Regions from separate parts of the Homo sapiens genome. Here region 1 is reported to be linked to region 2. The links are microRNA targets in miRTarBase. Many come from high-throughput screens and were not tested one by one. Region 2 holds a microRNA gene; the other region holds the end of a gene's coding sequence.

Evidence for each region. The annotated mature microRNA hsa-miR-4427 reads UCUGAAUAGAGUCUGAAGAGU and lies in region 2 at 2,483-2,503, shown strand. An mRNA with a match to its seed (bases 2 to 7 or 8) in the 3' UTR can be bound and repressed. Matches are read on the target gene's strand: a 7mer-m8 pairs with bases 2 to 8, a 7mer-A1 pairs with bases 2 to 7 and ends in A, and an 8mer does both.
Region 1: the mRNA of FNBP1 is a reported target of hsa-miR-4427. The part of its 3' UTR that is shown has no 7-base or 8-base seed match.

The regions. Positions count from the first base shown.
Region 1 is chr9:129,887,075-129,891,463 of GRCh38, forward strand. FNBP1 (formin binding protein 1) reads right to left here. Exons shown (of 17, transcript NM_015033.3): 17 at 113-3,472. The coding sequence ends at 3,465. Among named protein-coding and RNA genes, the nearest start is that of MIR6855, 20 kb to the left of the region's middle. RefSeq lists enhancers at 1,122-1,521, 1,852-1,941, 1,896-2,783.
Region 2 is chr1:233,621,713-233,626,101 of GRCh38, forward strand. It overlaps MIR4427 (microRNA 4427), which reads left to right and starts at 2,440; the gene lies at 2,440-2,507. The region is part of intron 1 of KCNK1 (potassium two pore domain channel subfamily K member 1); the gene reads left to right.

The sequences.
Region 1 (4,389 bases), not on the chromosome of region 2:
CAGCTCCTCCCAGGGGCCAGCTCCCCAGCCCAGGGGGCTTCCAATGACACCAGGCTGCTTCCACAACTAGGGTCATATCTTCATGCAACAAAACAGTCCCGTGACACGGAGCCACAAGTTATATTTTATTTTAACACGAGATTAACATATAGTTACAAGGTCAATACAAGCCTCCAGTGGAAGCTCTTTATTTGGTTTAATTCCATCTCCAGAGACAAACAGGCAACTCTAGGACCTTTACAGTGGCGATCGGCCTCACACAGCAAAATGCCTCCAAAGTTTAGAATTAGTGCAACACACATACGAACATTTTAAAGGTGCTCAACATCAGGTTAAAATAGAATTCTGGACCTTTTTAAAAAGTTTTTGGATGATATAAGCACAGGAGGCAGAGCCAATAAGAAACATGAAACCAATATTTCTGGAAAAACACTTAGCATGAACGTCACTTTTTGACGTCGTGTAAACTTTCTTCTGCAATGACGGATGTTACCAAAAGGCATCGAGACCTTTGCGCTGCGCTGGTTAGACAAGCCGCAGGCTTATCTCCACGGTGAGCAGGATAAAAACCCCCAAGGAACAGCCCATGACAACCTTCTGTGCCTTTTTATACTTTCCCATCCTACAAAGGAAAAACTGGGTAAAGGACAAGTTCCTCCCTTTCACTGCGTTTCTAAGAACTTTTCAGGGCAGGTTCTTTTAAAATTAGTCATCTTACAACACAACAGTATTCTAGCACGGTGGCGAAGTGACAGGCGGCAGATACGGGGGAGGAAGGAGACGTTCACGGGAAATTCCACATTCTACTCTATGTGAACTGCTCCAGAAAAATACAGACATGATTTCACAGTAGGATTCCCAGAGTAAATGATGATACATAGGACAACTGACCTCCTCTAAGAAGCCCGGCTGGGGCAGCAGTGAGCTTTTCATGGAGCCACGCAGACTGGCCCGGAAGCAACACCCAGGTTCAACATTTAAGAGCACTCGCTATAACATTCTTTTTGGACGCAGGTGGTGGAAAAGTTTAAAAAACAGGCGGAGGAGTGACGGGGGGATACAAGCATATCCTATACTGGGGGTGACGGTCATTCAAAGAGCAAATTACTGCAGCTTATATCTTTTCCACTATGTTGCAAGAAATGAATCTATCCTGACCCATAATATGAAAGATGTGACGCACATGCATTCCCGAGGCTCTAAAATCCCATTTTAAAGAACCGTTTCACATCCTCGTGGAGTGGAGAGTGGTCCACTTGACTTGGTGAGGTCAGAAGTTCCTGAAGATCCCTGTCGTCCCCGTTGGCGGGGGAGCCCATTGTGGAGCTGTGGGGACTGCCACACTCACCATGCACCTGTTGGTTTGCAGGGACAGAGGTGCGGCCCTGACTCTTCTCACCCTGTGTCATCCGGGCTTGTCTTTCGTCTGTCAAGTCAGTCCTCCTGCGTGACTGATGGGTGCACCACGCTTAGGTCACCCGTTGCAGGGACCGGAAGTCCATGGCTCTGCCGCAACCCTGAGCGGTTTGCAGTCCCCCCCGGGGAAGAAGCAGTCAGAGAGGCTCACGCTCACCTACTTTAAAAACCCAAAGCCACTTCCTCTTCACCTGCCTGGGCCTCAGCGTCTCTGCGCTTGTGGTTTCTCGTCCCCGAGGGCTGACTGAGCTGCTCCGGAAGGGTGGTGTGTGGTCAACCTTGGTTGGCTGAGAGGAGCAATTTCCTGGTTTCCACAAGTAAAGACAGCCCCATCCCTTGGGACCTGTCCTTTCCGTCCCTGTCCCTTTGGCTTCTATAGGACTTCCTTGTCTTAGATTCATAAACAGCAAGAGGAACTGAGGATGCTTGAGGGGACCACCTAGTTACCAAAGCCAAGCAAAGAATAAAGCTGCCCGACGTCATCCCCAGGCTTCCGTGGCGCTCTCGGTCACAGGAGCTCTAGGCCAATGGTTCCTCTTGACTGTTTCTGCACCAAATGAGAGGAGGGGCTGCTCTGCTCTAAGGCGTGGCGGGGGGGGGGGGTGGTGGCCACAGATTAGGGGACCTCAGGTTTTCCTCAAAAACCCACACAGGGAAAGAAACTTGGCTCTAAAAGCAAACTCAACGAATTCCACATGCCCTGAAGAGCACGTGATAAAATACAAGGGTGGTGGCGGCGGGATCCCTCAAAGGACCACGAGAGGCACGGGGTCTTTGGTGATGAAAGTGCTAACCTCGGCGGGGTGCGGTAGCTCACACCTGTAATCTCAGCACTTTGGGAGGCTGAGGCGGGCGGATCACCTGAGGTCAGGAGTTTGAGACCAGCCTGACCAACACGGTGAAACCCTGTCTCTACTAAAAATACAAACATTAGCCGGGCGTGGTGGTGCACGCCTGTAATCACAGCTATTTGGGAGGCTGAGGCAGGAGAATCGCTGGAACCCAGGAGGTGGAGGTTGTAGTGAGCCGAGATCATGCCACTGCACTCCAGTCTGAACAATAGAGCGAGACTCCCGTCTCAAAAAAAAAAAAAAAACAACAACAAAAAAGGAAGTGCTACCCTTTTCAGATGCTAATCCTGGGGCTCCTGGAAAGGAGAGGATGTTCGCTTTGCAATGAGCTGGTGCAGAGGGGAGGGCCTCGCTCACAAGCGCATGATCTACAGTTCTCAGGGACAGGAAAGTGATGGGGAGGACAGGCGTGGGCTCCTCATGGCCGGTGGACACAGGCGAGTCAACAAGGCGAGCTGGAATTCGACTTCCAGTGTGGACCTCCCCAGGCCACTGAAAACAGGGCGTCAAACCAAAATGTGTGTATGCGCACGCGTGTGTACTGGTGGGTGTGCCTGTGGGTGTGTGTGTACCTGCCCCCCTGCCTGCCAGATGCTCCCAGGTTGAGGGCATAGTGAAAGGGTCAATGTTTAGTATGAGGTGCAAGCCTAGAATCCAAAAAGGACCACTGAGGACTTCACAGACTCAGGAGAGGAGGAAGTGTTTTCTACAGCAGACAGTCTGGGACACACGGATGACATCGACACGGATGACATCGAGTGCTCAGTCCGCCTGATGTGCGCTGGACCTGCCTTGTCTCCTCAGGGGACCCGTGATGACACTTTCACAAAAGGCACTGTGTGAAGCGCGGAAGGGCTGCCAGGACGAGCCCGGGTGGACTGAGGGCCCAGGAAGGAGCAGGTAGGGGCGTGTGTCCCACCGTCTCAGTGGCCTGCGCGGGGTGGGGAGGGGGAGCGATGAGGACTGACCCGAGCCATGGGGGTGGGCGCTGGCGAGACTTGTCCCCCACGAGGTGGCCCGGGCTGGGCGGGAGGGCAGGGCCGCAGGGAGCATGCTGGAGAGAGAGAGAGACCGCCCCGCAGGGATGGGGCTGCGGAGGGGTGGGCTGTCCACAGGGCAGGGCGCTGGAGGCCTGTGGGAACAAGCAGACGGAGGCTCCTCCAGGAAGGCTCACCCGAGGCTCGCAGGCACTCCCCTCTAGGAATCTACAACACAAAGAGAAACAGAAAGAGAAACTCTCTGTTAGAGAGGAAGGCGCGGGTTCCAGGCGGGCATTTTGCTCTTGGCTACAAACTGCACCGCCCTGGGAGGGGAGGGTAGTGGGAGGGGAGGGATGGGAGGGGGCGTCTTAGAGCAATCGGTTACCACAGGGCGGGTCTGAGATGAGGAACTTTCACGGTTTTCTCTCTAGCCTTTAGCTGGTCTTTCCTTCAGAGTTAAGAGAAGCCCAAACAGGAGACTGATGAGGCCATCCGCCCCAACTCGTCTTTCTCATAAGTTTAGTTTTGAGAGAAAGTAAGAAACGGAGGCCGGGGCTGGGCGCCGTGGCTCATGCCTGTAATCCCAGCACTTTGGGAGCCTGAGGCAGGCAGATCACGAGGTCAGGAGTTCAAGACCAGCCTGGCTAACATGGTGAAAACCCATCTCTATTAAAAATACAACAATTAGCCTGGCGTGGTGGCAGGTGCCTGTAATCCCAGCTACTTGGGAGGCTGAGGCAGAAGAATCGCTTCAACCCAGGAGGCGGAGGTTGCAGTGAGCTGAGATCGGGCCACTGCACTCCAGCCTGGACAACAGAGCAAGACTCCGTCTTAAAAAAAAAAAAAAGGAAACGGAGGTTGGGTGCAGTGGCTCATACCTGTAATCCCAGCACTTTGAGAGGCTGAAGAGGGAGGATGCATGAGCTCAGGAGTTCAAGACCAGCCTGGGCCACAACATAGCCAGACCTCATCTCTACAAAAAATTAAAAAAAAATTAACCAGCATGTTGGCATGCGCCTGTAGTCCCGGCTATTCGGGAAGATGAGTTGGAAGGATGGCTTGAGCCCAGGGAGGTCGAGGCTGCAGCGAGCCAGGATCACACCACTGCACTTCAGCTTGGGCAACAGAGTGAGAATTCAACT
Region 2 (4,389 bases):
TATTTTGAAGGTTTGGGGTTTTTTTTTAACTATAAATTTGTTATTATCTATGCCTATTTTATAGCCCCTGGAAGATACTGCTACTATTATCAATAACGTGGAAGAAATGATGTCTTTCCTTTTATGACATAACTGTGAGTCCTATCAAGGACAGAATCTTTGATTGAACCAGTATCCTAAGGGAACTCTGGTGCTCTCAGAACAAGCTATTTTATGACATTGCTCATTGGAGTGTTACTGTGTGTGACTGTCATTTTATAGCCCCCGGAAGATACTGCTACTATTATCAATAACTTGGAAGAAATGATGTCTCTTCTTTTATGACATAACTGTAAGTCCTATCAAGAACAGAATCTTTGATTGAAGCAGTAACCTATTGGGAACTCCGGTGCTTTGAGAACAAGTTGTTTTATGACATTGCTCATTGGACTGTTGCTGTGTGTGAGTGTCTATTGTCTTTGGAGCATGTGAATTGCCGACACTCAATTGTTTTGACCCATAAAAATGGCAATTCCAGAAGGTTCAGTTTACTACAAGGTTGGTTTCAGGGACAGAAATCTCATCTGCCTCATATACTCTGACATACTCAGAGTTGCACCTGCTGGCTTTTATTCTCCAAAGACATCTTCCAATTGTATTATTGACAAATCCGTGAAATACTAAGGTGCTGAAGTTCTCCATTGACTGTGTCATGCCCAGGTGGCTTATTCAAGGCAGGAGATAAAGGTTGTCACTTTATTGGAAAGCAAGCAACTTTTGAGGTGTTTTATTGACTCCTGTGATACTTCTATCTCCTAGACTCAGTCTGTACTCTGACTTTCTTTGTTTCTTTTGCATGGATCCCTTATTTTTTGTTCAATCCCCAAAGTTGGTGGCCCACTCTCTGTCAGCAGCATATTGCAAGGTGATGCCCCCGATCTGAGGCTGAATGGAGGAAGAAAGAGAATAGGGAGTTGGAGATGTAGAGTTTGTGCACCTGAAAGGACTGTGGGATTGTCTCCTTGAACTTGAGTCAGATCAGAAGGGCTTATCTGTGACTTTCTACTGGTTTTCATGTTTGCCTTCTTTAATTTGGAAAACAGCTGATTGTTATATTGATGAGATTAATTTGCTTAGGTTAGACATGGGAGTGTTTTTAATTTGCTACCGTCTGCTTGATCCCAGATCAGAGTCTAACTTTTTGCATTAGCTCCTCTGACTGGGATTGACCAACTTTGTGAAATAAAAGCCTGCCCGCTGCTGCCTCTGAGACTCAGTTATTAGTACCCATGGAAGGGCTTTAGGCAGAAAGCTCTCAGGGAACTCAGAGAGAGTCGGTGAAATCATGGCTGATGCATTCAGAGGACAGAAAGCCAGGCACAGAGTGTTAAATACAACATTTTCTCACCCATATGTGGAAGCTAAAAAAAGTTAATCTCAAACAGTTTTTCTAATGCACTAACTTCTGGGATTATCTTTTCAAAAAGAAACAATGGAAGATAATGAAAACAAATGGAAATGGTTAGCAAGAAAAAAAAAAGGTTGGCTTTATAGAAGTGAAAAGTAAATGGAGCATACTAGCATCTGGGAAGGGTACGGGGAGGGGGGATGGGGAGAGATTTGTTACAGGATACAAAATTACAGCTAGATAGGAGGAATAAGTTCTGGTTGTCTATACCACTGTAGAATGACTATAGTTAACAGTAATATATAGTTTCAAGTCACTAAAAGAAAGGTATTAAATGTTCCCAACACAAAGAAATGATAAACATTTGAGATGATGGATATGGTAATTACCCTGATGTGATCACTGTACATTATGTGTATTGAGGTATCACTGTGTACCTCATAAATACGTAAAATTATTACGTGTCAGTTTTAAAAAGAAGAAAGAAACCTTTTGTTTTTTGTTATTGAGACGGAGTCTCGCTCTGTCACCCAGGCTGGAGTGCAGTGGCGTGATCTCAGATCGCTGCAACCTCCACCTCCCAGGTTCGAGTGATTCTCCTGCCTCAGCCTCCTGAGTAACTGGGACCACAGGCGCATGCCACCATGCCCGGCTAACTTTTGTATTTTTAGTAGGGACAGGGTTTTGCCATGTTGGTTGCCATGCTGGTCTTGAACTCCTGGCCTCAGGTGATCCACCTCAGCCTCCCAAAGTGCTGGGATTACAGGTAGCGTGAGCCACCGCACCTTGCCAAAAAAGCTTTCTTTAAAAAAAAGAAAGTAAACCTGAAACTATTCAAGTCAAAAAACAAAACAAAAGCAGGTAGAATGTTTCTAAGGGATTTAGAGAGAGTAAAACATGTTAGGTTTCATTTCTCTGAGTATGATCAATAGAGTTGGAGTTGGAGGCTCCAGTTGTTTACGGTCATCTCTTGTTATGTGGGGGGCTCTGTGACCTGAGTTAAGCTATTTACTCAAGTCGATGCCCCAGTTCCCTATTCACTCTGCTTCACTGAAGCCTCTTGGGGCTTATTTAGACAATGGTTTCATCATTTCGTCTGAATAGAGTCTGAAGAGTCTTTGGTGGAAGTATGCACTGAGGAGGGAGGCGGCAGAAGTGCCCTATCCCAGGAAAGTGTGCTCCCCAGGATGCGCTGAGCCAGGCACACACAGGACTTGGGGCTACTGAGAAGCAGGTTCTTTTCAAGTTCTGTTGTCCCAGACACCTCCTCCATTTCTTCCCGCTCTTTCTCCACAGCACTTAGCTTTCTACCTGCTGGTTCCCGTAACATCTGTCTTCACCTGGCCTCACCTATCTTCACCTGGCCTCACCTGTCTTCACCTGGCCTCACCTGGCACCTGGTTCCCATAGCACCTCTCTTGGCCTCACTTGGCATCCCTAGCACTCAACAGGTGCTCAAAAGGAGCAACTTAAGGCACATTTCTTCATATGTCTGAATCTGTGCCTTTTCTGAAAAATGAAGAAGGTTCTAAAGATGTTACTTCTATTCAAGAGACCTTAGATATAACTTTATTCTCTTGATGAGGAAACAGAGGCCTGCATTGCCAAAATGGGTTTTGAAGCTATTCATATAAAAACAATGATATCTGGGGGGCCTCATGTGTACTCGGTGCACCACAAAAGGCCCTAAGTGATATAAAGAGAAGAGAGGCATTCATTCCTCTCTGAGTATTTGTGGAGCACTTTGGTTACTAGGTGCTACTCCAGGCACTTAGGGATATGTCAGGGAACAAAACCACAAAAATCACTTTTGCCCTCCTGGATGTGTCAGTCTGGGTTGGGATCGGAGATACAATTGTAGGGGCCAAGAGAAAACTTCTCCTTCACCCTCTGAAGTTTCACTGAAAATCACCTGATAAAAGGCAGATTAATAGGAGAAAAGGCATATACAGTTGCTTGACCATAGTTTATGTGACATGGGAGCCTTCAGAATGAAGACCCAAAAACACAGGGGAAACCATTCACTTTTATGCTTAGGTTCAACAAAGTATAAACAGGTGTGTAAAAAATAGGATTGGACCAAAAGGGAATGATCTAAATCTTATAAGACCAAGCGGGGAAGCCCAGCAAGGCCTGTCTGGAATCTTCTCGGCCTCTCTGAGCATGTATTCCTTCCTTCTGGGTGTGGGGCAGCACCCTCTCTGGAATGGGGATTCTTATGACCTACAGTCAAACAAGATGGGTCATATAATTTCATTGGCCAGTTTTACATAGAAAGGTGGAGGAAAAGTTTTATGGTTTTATGGCTGGCTTTGGGGAAATGGGGTTCTGGTCTCTAGGATCCACCTTGGGGAAGAGGTATTCCAGATTTTATGGCTAGCCTGGGGGAGGATGAGGGGTGAGAGATAGGAGGGCAGGAGAAGGTCGGAGAAAAACTTTTGCTTCTGGGACCTTGATTTTGGGTTATCATTTTCTGAGCTCCAGCATGAACAAAGAGATAACTAAGGGAAATGCACAGGATGTTAGGTGGTGATAGGTGCTCAGGAACAACAATGCAGAGCAAAGGAGATGGGGAGTGTGTGATTAGTGTATGGTGAAGGGGGCAGAGTCCAGGATCGTAGTCTTCCATAAAGTTGCCCGTGAAAGCCTTACTGAGAAGATGGCACTTACGTAAAGAGTGAGAGGAGGTGGGGAGTGCCTTATGCAGTTTTCTGGGGAGCTGTGTTCCAGAACAAAGGCACCTATTGGAGGTGCAGCTAGAAAGTGACTGTGGCTGGAGCTGAGTAAGAGGGGAGTGATGAGGTCAGGAAGAAGGGGAGGGAGCAGATGCTGTAGGATGTCCTAGGCCACTGCAAAACATCTGGCTTTTATCTGAGCTAGGGGAAAAGCACCAGGAGATTTTGAGCAAAGGGTTGACACAATCTGACTGACTGTTCCAACGCGTTCACTCTGGCTGGTGTAGGAGGGCAAGGCTGAGGCTGAGACTAAAAGGAGGCTCTTCT